Homo sapiens: one gene and its partners. The protein of the gene in region 1 purifies or fractionates together with the protein of each later gene. This does not show direct contact. Each region holds a gene or a part of one and is shown in the gene's direction. Other genes may lie near its edges. The genes, in order: H2BW1, CEP78 and ARHGEF40.

Region 1 (4,420 bases):
CAGATTGTTGTCTCAAAAAAAAGAAAAAAAAAGAATTAGAGAAACAAAATAAGGACTATATATTACAATTTTGCATCACGTAGATGATGGGAACATCCTGTGAGAGCAGCTCATGCCATAGTCACCACTGGCTCAGGCAATAAAGGCTTTCCAGCCCTTGAGGCACCACAAGCCATGGCTGAAAGTGTGGGGAGGTGACCCGGAAATGAACCAGTGAGAGCCTCCCTGGGAGGTTTAACCTTGCAGATTGTGAAGAAAAACGATGTGGCTCTTTCCCTGTTTTTTGTTTGCTTTTTTTTTTTTAAGAAAAATATCATGCTGACTTACTGATATGAATACAGAGATTGTTGTGGACAGGTCTCTTGTGCCTTGTACCAAACTACGAGAAGGATTGTCTTGCTAAACGTTTAAGTAGATTTATAAGATCATCATTTGTAAAGGGGACTGTTCAGAAATGGTGTACTAGAGTTCAGTCACAGAGCTTACCATATACGATCTTATCTAACAACAAAAATGAGCCTTTTTGTCCTTCTTAATCGTGAACCAATTTATTAGGAGTAGAATAAGTTGTTTGCTAAAGACATGACAGGAAATACACTTGAAAGCCTGACCTTTGAAATGACAGTTCATCGATGACCTTTATTTCTTCAGCATTTCTTAAGAATCTTTCTTGTTCAATTCCTGCAACTTAATGTTACTTAAATGCATTTAAGGAATGCCTTTGCGTATATTATCAGAGACTCTTGAAAGCTCTCTTTCTAACTTGAACATAATTTCCATTTCTGGAATCCCTTTCTCTCCCTCAGGGGCTTCCTAGGAGATTTAAGGCGATATTTTTTAACCCAATATCTCTTAAACTTATTAGCCATTTCCAGCTTTTGAGTTGTGATTTGTGGTTGTTGTTTTGCTTTCCTTTTTTTTTTTTTAATTATTTTTTTAAACCTGGTCGATGTCGAGTGTTGTCATATGTTTTTAATAAAAGTGCCTTTCTGTTTCTATTGTCTGCTTGGAGGCTGGGGTATGGCCATTTCTCATTCTCCTGATTCACGGAAGATGTTGATCAGTACTGAAGCCCGGAGCCAGACCGCTAGGTCCTTTGATGCCCAGGCGGCCATGTCAGGGAGTTCCTGCTCAAGCCAGGGTGGCTTAGCCCAGGATAACAGTAGCTTCTGAGATGGGTGACAATTGTTCCACACGTGGCCACAGTCATTCTTCCGGCATAATGGACTTGGGCTCAGGAGGTCTGTCTCTCCTCAGGGATCATGAGCTGAAATTGCTAAACTTTGGGAGTTTTCAGTGACACCCTTCAAAGTGCTCACAGTGTGGCATGGATCAGCTGAGAAGGGCGGATGCGCTTTTGCCCCGTGAGGCATCTATCTGTGTAACTTTCTCCGAGCTGGGCCACAAGGGGCGCTTAGGCCCGCAGACGCCCACTGTGATTGGTTGACGAGATGCCACGCAACGGGACCATCCAGTCACCTTCAACGCAGGTAGGTTTGCTGAGAGGCTCCCTGCGTGACACTTCATCCAATCAGACGTGAAGCTGGCCCGAGACGTGGAGCCATGCTGCGTACCGAAGTGCCCCGGCTTCCCCGGTCCACAACCGCCATTGTCTGGTCGTGCCATCTAATGGCCACTGCCTCCGCCATGGCTGGACCTTCCTCTGAGACGACCTCTGAGGAACAGCTGATCACCCAGGAGCCCAAAGAGGCCAACTCCACTACGTCCCAGAAGCAGAGCAAGCAGAGGAAGCGAGGGCGCCATGGGCCCCGCAGGTGCCACTCCAACTGCCGCGGGGACAGCTTCGCCACCTATTTCCGCCGGGTGCTGAAGCAGGTTCACCAGGGCCTCAGCCTTTCCCGGGAGGCCGTGAGTGTCATGGATTCTTTGGTTCATGACATATTGGACCGCATCGCCACCGAGGCTGGTCACCTGGCCCGCTCCACCAAGCGCCAGACCATCACTGCCTGGGAGACCCGGATGGCTGTGCGCCTGCTGCTGCCGGGGCAGATGGGCAAGCTCGCCGAGTCCGAAGGCACGAAGGCTGTCCTCAGGTACACCAGGAGCAAGTGCGCTCCCTCAGGAGCACCCGAGCACCACGGGAACCCAAAGGGTCTTTTCAGAGCCACTGAATGTGGCCTGAAAGACCAGTGGCTCGCCAAGGGGGACACCACCGGAGGCTGGGGTGGGTGGTGCCCTTCCGACTTGGGGGGCATGTGGCGTGTGGCATCCTGCAATGTTTCAAGCATTTTCCCCTCAGTACTAAACATTGTCAGCTCCAATATATCTGTAGTGCAGTTTGCTCCAAGGAAAAATAGTGGGTGTTTCCGTGATCGTGTTTCATTTCCTCAGTTTCGTAAACGGTCATTTTTGTTAGTTATGTTTCTAGGCTATCTATATGGTGATATTATTACTGCACTGATCTTTACCTTTTTCTGTCTCATTCTCCTGTGACTGGATGGTGGAATTTTCCAGAACTTCACTGTATGCCATACAGCAACAGAGAAAGTGAATACGCTGATACAAGAAGCAAGGTAACCCTCCTAAATGTTTTCAACACCGCTCCCATCACGAATCCATGTAAATAAGCAAATGAGGCCAAGTTACAGTGTACATACAGCTAAATAAAATTTTCAAGAATCCGTTCATTTTCCAGCTTCCTCGACTCTGAGATCACTATTGCAGTTCATTCTTTTTTTGCCATGACGATAATCTTTTCGTTTCTTTTTAAACAGAAACCTTCGTTACTTCCAGGTTTGTGTCAGTAGGCTTAGGGAGTGTCCACAGAAATGGCTCATGCCCTAGTGTTCAGTGGTGTAGCCAATGAGTGACTTGCAGTCTATGAGCAACAGTCATTGTCCCAGTGTGGGGGCAGTGAACCAGGCTGAACCCACAACAGCCTTGCACTGATATGCAGTCTGGTGTTTGGGGGGACAGGGTTGTGATTCTTTACCTGATGTTTTTGTTTTCAGTGTTTGTAATCATGGTCATTTAAGGATATGAATCCAGTGCTAGGAGTAGTATATGTTCCTTGCCCCTAGCATCAAGTTATGCAGAGGATGGTCAGCCTTTAGGAGAAGTCAGATAACGCTTATTTCCTCAAGAGATTTGCATATTAATATTCATGTTAATGTTAATATAGGTTAGCTTTCATTGTGCTTTCTTCTGGGTCCCAAGTCTTTGTATTTTTAGCACTTTTTCCTATGAGTGTATTGTTGAATTTCAGAGCAGCTGCTGACTTTCCCATTGCTTTTCTTTTCAGAGGATCTCCAGCCGCCCGAGTATGTGGACCAGAGAACATACTCTGGGATTGCGACCCATAGGAATTTATTGTATTGTGCCTTGAAGCTCAATATGTGGCCATTTTTGTCAAATGTTTCCCGTGAATTTTGAAACATCTCATAAACAACCTTTCTCCTTCATATGTAGAAACCAGTAAAGGGTGACACTCTCAGTCAAACCATGAAACAAAAGCTGGGAAAATGACAAAAATCAAAATTTTCTTGAGCCCATCAGAAGTGGGAAAGAACCACACCAGATGGCCCAACACATAGCCACATAGATTATTCCACCTTTGGCAGAGGACCGTTTGGTCAAGAGGGAAATGGGGGCATGGCAGGATAGTAGCCAGAGCTTCCCTGAGTAGTGCATTTGGGCAGCGTGGGCAGTTCACCTCCAGAGCTCCACTTGGGCTCCGTAGAGAAAGGATGTAGGGCCAAGAAGTCCCCTCATTGGGATTTGCTACTTTCTGTTTTTGCAGAATATTAGAAAAATGTCATGAAAATAGTTGAAGAGAAATGCTCACTGCACAAGGAGACCAAGAAAAACCCCCCACGAAATCAGCCACAACTAAATCGCTCTGGACGGTGCCGCCAGGTGACCCTACATGTCCGGAGCAACACTTTGAAAACCAAAGACGCTTGGCAGAACCCTGTTCCTTTCCAGAGACAGAGCTGTGTACCTTGTCTAAAACACCGCATCTCACTCAGTGACTTATTTCTCATTATGCTAATTGTTTTCGCTTTAAAGCGCCAGTCTTTCTGTCAAATGGGACATACAAATAAATTTCTAAAATTATCCTTGCATGTCTACTGGGTAATTTGACATGTCTTTTTCAGAAACCGTATCCATTGGGATATTTTACCCTGGAGTGTGTGTTTTCCATTTGTAAATTCAGAAATGAATGAGGAGCATTAGTAAAACAGCGTTAACAATGAACTCTGATTGGGCTGTGGGGAGTGAAGAGTGAGAGTTCAAGGGGACTGATGCCGGTGAGTTATAGGAAGAAAGAGAAAAAGGCTGCTTTGATGTGAAGATGGGCAGAGGAGCTCACACATCTGCTATAGCATTTCAGTGGGTGATTGAGGAGAAGGGGAACCTAGTGAGCAATCGTGATGTCAAGCTGTGGCTTACTGAAAAC
Region 2 (3,648 bases), on another chromosome or scaffold:
TTTTTGCCTGTGATGTTTACACTGCCACTAGCATCCTTGTTAATTATGAACAAATATTCATTCTGTGATGTTTTATGTAGAGTTATTTTTCAACTCTGTAATTGTAAAATATGTTGGGTAATTTATTGGTACTAAAGGGAGGGTAATCATGACACATCTATGAAGAGGGTTTCTTTTTTGTATTATGTGTGTGCATATGGTTTTCTATTTTTATTTTTTCAATACCCAAGATTAAAAACTGGCCATGAGTAGTCTTGGGCAGGAGTCTTCCAGGCATGAATAAGTGGGAGTTGTCTGTATGTTAAATCTGTATAGAATTGGCCGGGCGAGGTGGCTCACGCCTGTAATCCCAGCACTTTGGGAGGCCGAGGTGGGCAGATCACAAGGTCAGGAGATCCAGACCATCCTGGCTAACACGGTGAAACCCTGTCTCTACTAAAAATACAAAAAAATTAGCCATGCGTGGTGGCGGGCGCCTGTAGTCCCAGCTACTCAGGTGGCTGAGGCAGGAGAATGGCGTGAACCTGGGAGGCAGAGCTTGCAGTGAGCGGAGATAGTGCCACTGCACTCCAGCCTGGGTGACAGAGTGAGACTCCGTCTCAAAAAAACAAACAAACAAACAAAAAATCTGTATAGAATTAGCAAGTGACCCTTTGTCTTTCATCGAAAGCTCTTGACCTGCAACAGTGCGGCCTCACCAATGAAGGAGCAAAGGCTTTGCTAGAGGCCCTTGAAACCAATACAACTCTGGTCGTTCTGGATATAAGAAAAAATCCACTCATTGGTATGTCGCTACAATATTTTTTATTGACTAACAAATAGCAAAAGAAAAAGAATTTCTCATGTATTGACAGTTTTGAAAACTTAATGTGTTTCCTTCCCTAATCTTACACTTTTGTAATCTTGCACTTTCTTATGTTTTTAGTAGATAATTTACTGATGAAAAGAGTTGTACTTAAATTGCTCTTGGCTGCTACTCTGAATAGGAGTGAACCTAGATAATAAATCTGCTTCCACCAAGTGCATTATTTTCTTCTTGTGGAACTTCTGAATTCTTGGAAATAGTATTTCATTCATTTGTTGATTTGACAAGTAATTTTTGAATACTTCTATCTGCTAGATACTGGTTTAAGCACTAAACATACAGCAGTAAACCAGCTAGACAAATTCTTGGTCTCATAGAGCTTACATTCTAGTTGGGGAGTTATACGTAATGTAATTTAGATAGTAGGAAGTGCAAAAATACCGTAAGGTAAGAAGACAGATGGGGGCAGGTGGGACTATATTAGATAGGTTTTTTAGGGGACAGCTTCACTGAAAAAGGGACATTTGAACAGAGACCTGATTAGGAGGGGAACAAGCCGTGGAAGATGCAGATAAAGTACCTTCCAGGATGAGGAAGCAATGAATATGTAGTTACATAGGTGGCAGGGTGGATGGAGTATTTAAGGAAAAGCAAGAAGGCCAATATGGTTGGGGCACTGAGTGATGAAGAGACTGGTATGCTACAAAGTCAGACAACTAGCCAGGGGCCTGATCTTGTAAGGTTTGAAGGTCACGGTAAGGACTTAGATAATTCTAAATGAGCTGAAAACCATGGGAGGATTTTGAGCTGGTAAGGGTTATATTCCAAGTAGTAATTCAATCAGATGACTTGGTGTGGAGAATACACTTGTAGGGGGCTATAAAAGGGAAAGAGGGAGGCCAGTTAGGAGACTCACACTGGTTCAAGTTAGAGATGGCTATGGCTTCACTTAGGGTGGAAGGTTGGAGGTGGTAAAAAGTGGTTGAAACAAGGTGTAGCTAACAAGACTTGTGGGGTATAAAGGAAATAGTAATTTTTTTAAAAAGTCCTAGGTGATTTTGCATACAACTGGGTGGTACTGTTTATAGAGAAAAGGAGGCTGTGGAGAAGAGCAGCTTTGGGGGCGCATCATGACTTTGATTTGGGTATATTAGGTGCCTTTTAAGCATCTAAGTATCTGGACAGTGTTTAGGCTTTTGATTTCCTATTTAGAGGTATCTAAAGCTACTTTAGTTCCAAAGTGTTTACATTTGATCTTTGCTGCTGCCAAAATAGTAGCCATCAGGGACAATATGTGTGTAGGAATACTTTGTTTTTGAGGAAGAAGTTAGAATACTCAAAGGGGGAAAAGGTATTTAATTACATTATGTGGAATTCATATTCAATTTCATGGGAAAAAGCAATAATTGGTTGGCTTTTGTTTTTAAATGGGAATAGCCACTCATTGGGAAATAATTACTATAATTTCAATTTTTATTTTACTTTAGATCATTCTATGATGAAAGCAGTTATCAAAAAAGTCCTCCAGAATGGAAGGAGTGCCAAATCAGAGGTATATCATGTTTTATTTCTCCAGAAAGAATTCTTATTTAATTGCTTTTCTTCTGGGATCTCACTGTACTGCCCAGCCTGGCCTCAAACTTCTGAGCTCCAGTGATCTTCCCCCTTCCCAGCTTCCTAGGTAGCTAGGACTGTAGGTATATATCGTTGTGCCCAGCTTTTCGTCTGTTTTTAATAAAATGAAACTATTAAGGCACTTTTCTGCCATCTTAAATTTACAGTCAAATCAAATGTCTTTTCTGTTTTTGTAAATACCGTATGATTCTTTAATTTTGGGTCCCAGAACTGCTGATTGCAAACCTTTTATTAACATAGAGTATCTTAACAATTTCCATTTAAGATGTAGCCCTCATAAATGATCTGTAACTGAAATATAGTGTTTATTCTGTCTCTTTTAGTACCAGTGGATAACTTCTCCATCAGTGAAGGAACCATCCAAAACTGCTAAACAGAAAAGGAGAACTATAATTCTAGGAAGTGGTCACAAAGGAAAAGCTACTATTAGAATTGGTAACCTTTTCTGTCTTGGCTTTTTAATGCTACTAGTGTTCTAGTGTGTTAAAATTAAAATCTCTTCTCATTGTATGATATTGACAGTAACAACCAATATTGACTCCGTGCATATTATGAGGTCTGTAATTGTTCTGATAAGATTATGAGAATTTATGGAATGTAGAAATAGTAAATGAATCATTAGGAAAGGGATGCTAGTGCTTCCATTTAAAAAATTACCCTTATTTGTTTTTCATACAATATTCATCATTTTGGATATGTTTTCTGATTCATGATTACTTTTGATACTTTGCAATTGAAATTTGGGATGCACTTTGATGACAGTTTTAGCAGTGCTTTTGTATGATTTTGTTGTTAATGAAGAATTATCCTTTCATACGATAGAAAACAAAATTTCTTCCCAGTTCCATTTTTTTTCCCTTGTTTCCTCCTCCTTCCTTGCAAATTCTTACCCAAAGTTGTTGAATTAGGTAGCACCTTGCTTCTTTCAATGATGAAATAACCTTAAAATATATGTAATCCTTATAAAACAATACTGCAGGTAAGTTTATTACCCAGAGATGGAACATTTTAGACAAACATTCCCTAAATGTTTGCTATTTATGGTTTATTTAATCTGCCAAATAATAGTCTAGAATTTTGAAATTGTCTATAATTTTGTGACCAAGAATAATGAAAAAAGACTTTATAAACTGTTTATCAGCTAATGGCATAAATTTTACATTCTCCTGAATACATAAATTTGGTATAATCTAGTTCTACTGATATTT
Region 3 (3,648 bases), on another chromosome or scaffold:
CTGGACTTCCTGGTACCAGCCAAGCACCTGCTTGCCAAGGTCCAGCAGGAAGCCTGTGTGAGTGGCCGTGCATCACTATTCTGCCTTCCCCAAGATCCACTGCCACACTCTACAGACTAGCCAGGCTGACTAATGCCCCCACTAACCTAGAGATACAGCCTCCCTTGAAACCGATCTCTCCAGAATCACTTAAGCTTCATTCTCTGACCTCTCACAAACTTTGACCTTCACAGGCACTGACCATTCAGATGCTAACACACACACACACACACACATTCATCTTCCCCAAATTCATCTTGACCCCAATACTGACCCCCAAAGACCCTAACTCTCCAGACCCAATTCCAGACATCTTCTCCCCCTCATATGAATTTCTCAAGACACTAACTCCCCCGTACATTAGTCAACAGAGATCATTCATTTCTACAGATATAAAGACTCCTAAGAGTCTTTAGCTTCTCCAAGACAATGGCATCTGCTGACCATGTCTTGGTAACGATTCAGTTCTTACCCTCCCACACATGGAACTAGCTTCCTGAAGAATCTTCCTACTACTGGGAGACCGATCAGTCCCAATCCCTTCCTCTCTGCCACCTGAATACCCCAAATCTCCCCTCCTGCTCTCCTGAGAGTATAACCTTCCAGGCATAAGGCTGGTCCTGCCTAGGGTGGGCCCATTCTAACTGCCCTCTCCTGCTGGTTTCTTCAGCAGAGGCCTGAGTGCAGCCTCCCACCTCTCTCCCCAGGCCCAATACAGTGGATTCCTCTTCTTCCATGAGGGGTGGCCGCTCTGCCTGCATGAACAGGTGGTGGTGCAGCTAGCAGCCCTACCCTGGCAACTGCTGCGCCCAGGAGACTTCTATCTGCAGGTGGTGCCCTCAGCTGCCCAAGCACCCCGACTAGCACTCAAGTGTCTGGCCCCTGGGGGTGGGCGGGTGCAGGAGGTTCCTGTGCCCAATGAGGCTTGTGCCTACCTATTCACACCTGAGTGGCTACAAGGCATCAACAAGGACCGGCCAACAGGTCGCCTCAGTACCTGCCTACTGTCTGCGCCCTCTGGGATTCAGCGGCTGCCCTGGGCTGAGCTCATCTGTCCACGATTTGTGCACAAAGAGGGCCTCATGGTTGGACATCAGCCAAGTACACTGCCCCCAGAACTGCCCTCTGGACCTCCAGGGCTTCCCAGCCCTCCACTTCCTGAGGAGGCGCTGGGTACCCGGAGTCCTGGGGATGGGCACAATGCCCCTGTGGAAGGACCTGAGGGCGAGTATGTGGAGCTGTTAGAGGTGACGCTGCCCGTGAGGGGGAGCCCAACAGATGCTGAAGGCTCCCCAGGCCTCTCCAGAGTCCGGACGGTACCCACCCGCAAGGGCGCTGGAGGGAAGGGCCGCCACCGGAGACACCGGGCGTGGATGCACCAGAAGGGCCTGGGGCCTCGGGGCCAGGATGGAGCACGCCCACCCGGCGAGGGGAGCAGCACCGGAGCCTCCCCTGAGTCTCCCCCAGGAGCTGAGGCTGTCCCAGAGGCAGCAGTCTTGGAGGTGTCTGAGCCCCCAGCAGAGGCTGTGGGAGAAGCCTCCGGATCTTGCCCCCTGAGGCCAGGGGAGCTTAGAGGAGGAGGAGGAGGAGGCCAGGGGGCTGAAGGACCACCTGGTACCCCTCGGAGAACAGGCAAAGGAAACAGAAGAAAGAAGCGAGCTGCAGGTCGAGGGGCTCTTAGCCGAGGAGGGGACAGTGCCCCACTGAGCCCTGGGGACAAGGAAGATGCCAGCCACCAAGAAGCCCTTGGCAATCTGCCCTCACCAAGTGAGCACAAGCTTCCAGAATGCCACCTGGTTAAGGAGGAATATGAAGGCTCAGGGAAGCCAGAATCTGAGCCAAAAGAGCTCAAAACAGCAGGCGAGAAAGAGCCTCAGCTCTCTGAAGCCTGTGGGCCTACAGAAGAGGGGGCCGGAGAGAGAGAGCTGGAGGGGCCAGGCCTGCTGTGTATGGCAGGTGAGATGACACGGAGTGAGGCTCATGGGGCAAGGGCCAAAGCAGGTCGGGCCTATGGGAGGGGGCAGGAGGAGGAGCAGGGTTAGGCTGGGAGCAGAACAACCAGAACCATCTTAACTTCAGTCCCATGTTTCTGTCTGTGTCTGTGCAGGACACACAGGCCCAGAAGGCCCCCTGTCTGACACTCCAACACCTCCGCTGGAGACTGTGCAGGAAGGAAAAGGGGACAACATTCCAGAAGAGGCCCTTGCAGTCTCCGTCTCTGATCACCCTGATGTAGCTTGGGACTTGATGGCATCTGGATTCCTCATCCTGACGGGTCAGTGGGCATCAGTGGGTGAAGGGAAACAGGACTGGGAAAGAGAAGCAATTGGGTGGGCTTGGGGACTGGGGGAGGCAGGGTGGAAAGGAGGTAGGCATGGACTGCTCCCAGCCAGGACAGCCTGGCCATTTTGTGTCTTCAGGAGGGGTGGACCAGAGTGGGCGAGCTCTGCTGACCATTACCCCACCGTGCCCTCCTGAGGAGCCCCCACCCTCCCGAGACACGCTGAACACAACTCTTCATTACCTCCACTCACTGCTCAGGTAACCGAGGCCCAGTCCTGGCACCCTGGACACTAACCTCCTGATTCATGAGGACCCTCACCTCCTTCTTCTCAGGACACTGACCTTCTGACCTCTAAGGACACCTACTTCTTCAACCTTCAGACTTCAAGCCATTGACCTTTGGCCTTACTTACCCTGACCTCCAGCTTCATATCTTCACTGATCTTCAAAAGCAACACTGTTGACTTTCACTCTCTTCCAACCCTACCAAGATCATCAGGACATTGGTTCACTGATTCAACAAACATTTATTGAGCACTGAGTACCTATTAGGCACCATACTACAGGCTGATATTGAATGCACGCCATTTCAGAACAGAATTCTTAATTTTCCAGACCTTAATCCCTTGACCTAGTAGCCATATGAATATAGACCCCTGACTGCTAGGTGACTTCCTCTTGTACACACACCCCAGAATTTGGCCCTTTGCCCATTTCTTCCCAAATGTACCGGCAACTAATTTCTCCTCAGGACTATTAACTAAAAACAGACCCCGTATGTCTGCCTTGCCTTATCTGCTATCCCCCAAAACACACACACAGCAGCCTCCTTGGCTCTTCCTGCTCCCGCAGGCCTGATCTACAGACACTGGGGCTGTCCGTCCTGCTGGACCTTCGTCAGGCACCTCCACTGCCTCCAGCACTCATTCCTGCCTTGAGCCAACTTCAGGTAACCACCCCTCAAACAGGCAGTTCCCCTGGATCCTAACTCTTCACCAGTGGCCAGTCCAGGACACCCGATTGCCCAGTTTAGGGTTATTCTTTTCTGCCCTTAGGACTCAGGAGATCCTCCCCTTGTTCAGCGGCTGCTGATTCTCATTCATGATGACCTTCCAACTGAACTCTGTGGATTTCAGGTTTGAGCCCTTCATTCCCATCTAGTTTCCCATCAGTAGTGGGGAGAGGAGAAGAGGCTGGCTGGAGCCCCAGGCTGGTTTCTGAGTCCTTGGGTGCCCAGGAAGAAACCCCCTGCCTTACCCTCTACAGGGTGCTGAGGTGCTGTCAGAGAATGATCTGAAAAGAGTGGCCAAGCCAGAGGAGCTGCAG

Evidence for each region.
Region 2: the proteins of H2BW1 (region 1) and CEP78 purify together in Homo sapiens (co-immunoprecipitation; one large-scale study listed by IntAct). This does not show direct contact.
Region 3: the proteins of H2BW1 (region 1) and ARHGEF40 purify together in Homo sapiens (affinity purification with mass spectrometry; one large-scale study listed by BioGRID and IntAct). This does not show direct contact.

Annotation. Positions count from the first base shown.
Region 1 is NC_000023.11:104,010,804-104,015,223, reverse strand, and holds H2BW1 (histone H2B type W-T), read left to right. Parts: upstream 1-1,515; 5' UTR 1,516-1,647; coding exon 1,648-2,054; intron 2,055-2,475; coding exon 2,476-2,512; 3' UTR 2,513-2,534; intron 2,535-3,760; 3' UTR 3,761-4,077; downstream 4,078-4,420. UniProt on the Homo sapiens protein: Atypical histone H2B that can form nucleosomes structurally and dynamically indistinguishable from those containing conventional H2B.
Region 2 is NC_000009.12:78,245,999-78,249,646, forward strand, and holds part of CEP78 (centrosomal protein of 78 kDa), read left to right. Parts: intron 1-670; coding exon 671-784; intron 785-2,292; coding exon 2,293-2,357; intron 2,358-2,763; coding exon 2,764-2,875; intron 2,876-3,648. UniProt on the Homo sapiens protein: Centriole wall protein that localizes to mature centrioles and regulates centriole and cilia biogenesis. Involved in centrosome duplication: required for efficient PLK4 centrosomal localization and PLK4-induced overduplication of centrioles.
Region 3 is NC_000014.9:21,073,186-21,076,833, forward strand, and holds part of ARHGEF40 (rho guanine nucleotide exchange factor 40), read left to right. Parts: coding exon 1-57; intron 58-746; coding exon 747-1,995; intron 1,996-2,146; coding exon 2,147-2,314; intron 2,315-2,437; exon of another isoform or gene 2,438-2,459; coding exon 2,460-2,580; intron 2,581-3,174; coding exon 3,175-3,271; intron 3,272-3,350; exon of another isoform or gene 3,351-3,377; coding exon 3,378-3,458; intron 3,459-3,588; coding exon 3,589-3,648. UniProt on the Homo sapiens protein: May act as a guanine nucleotide exchange factor (GEF).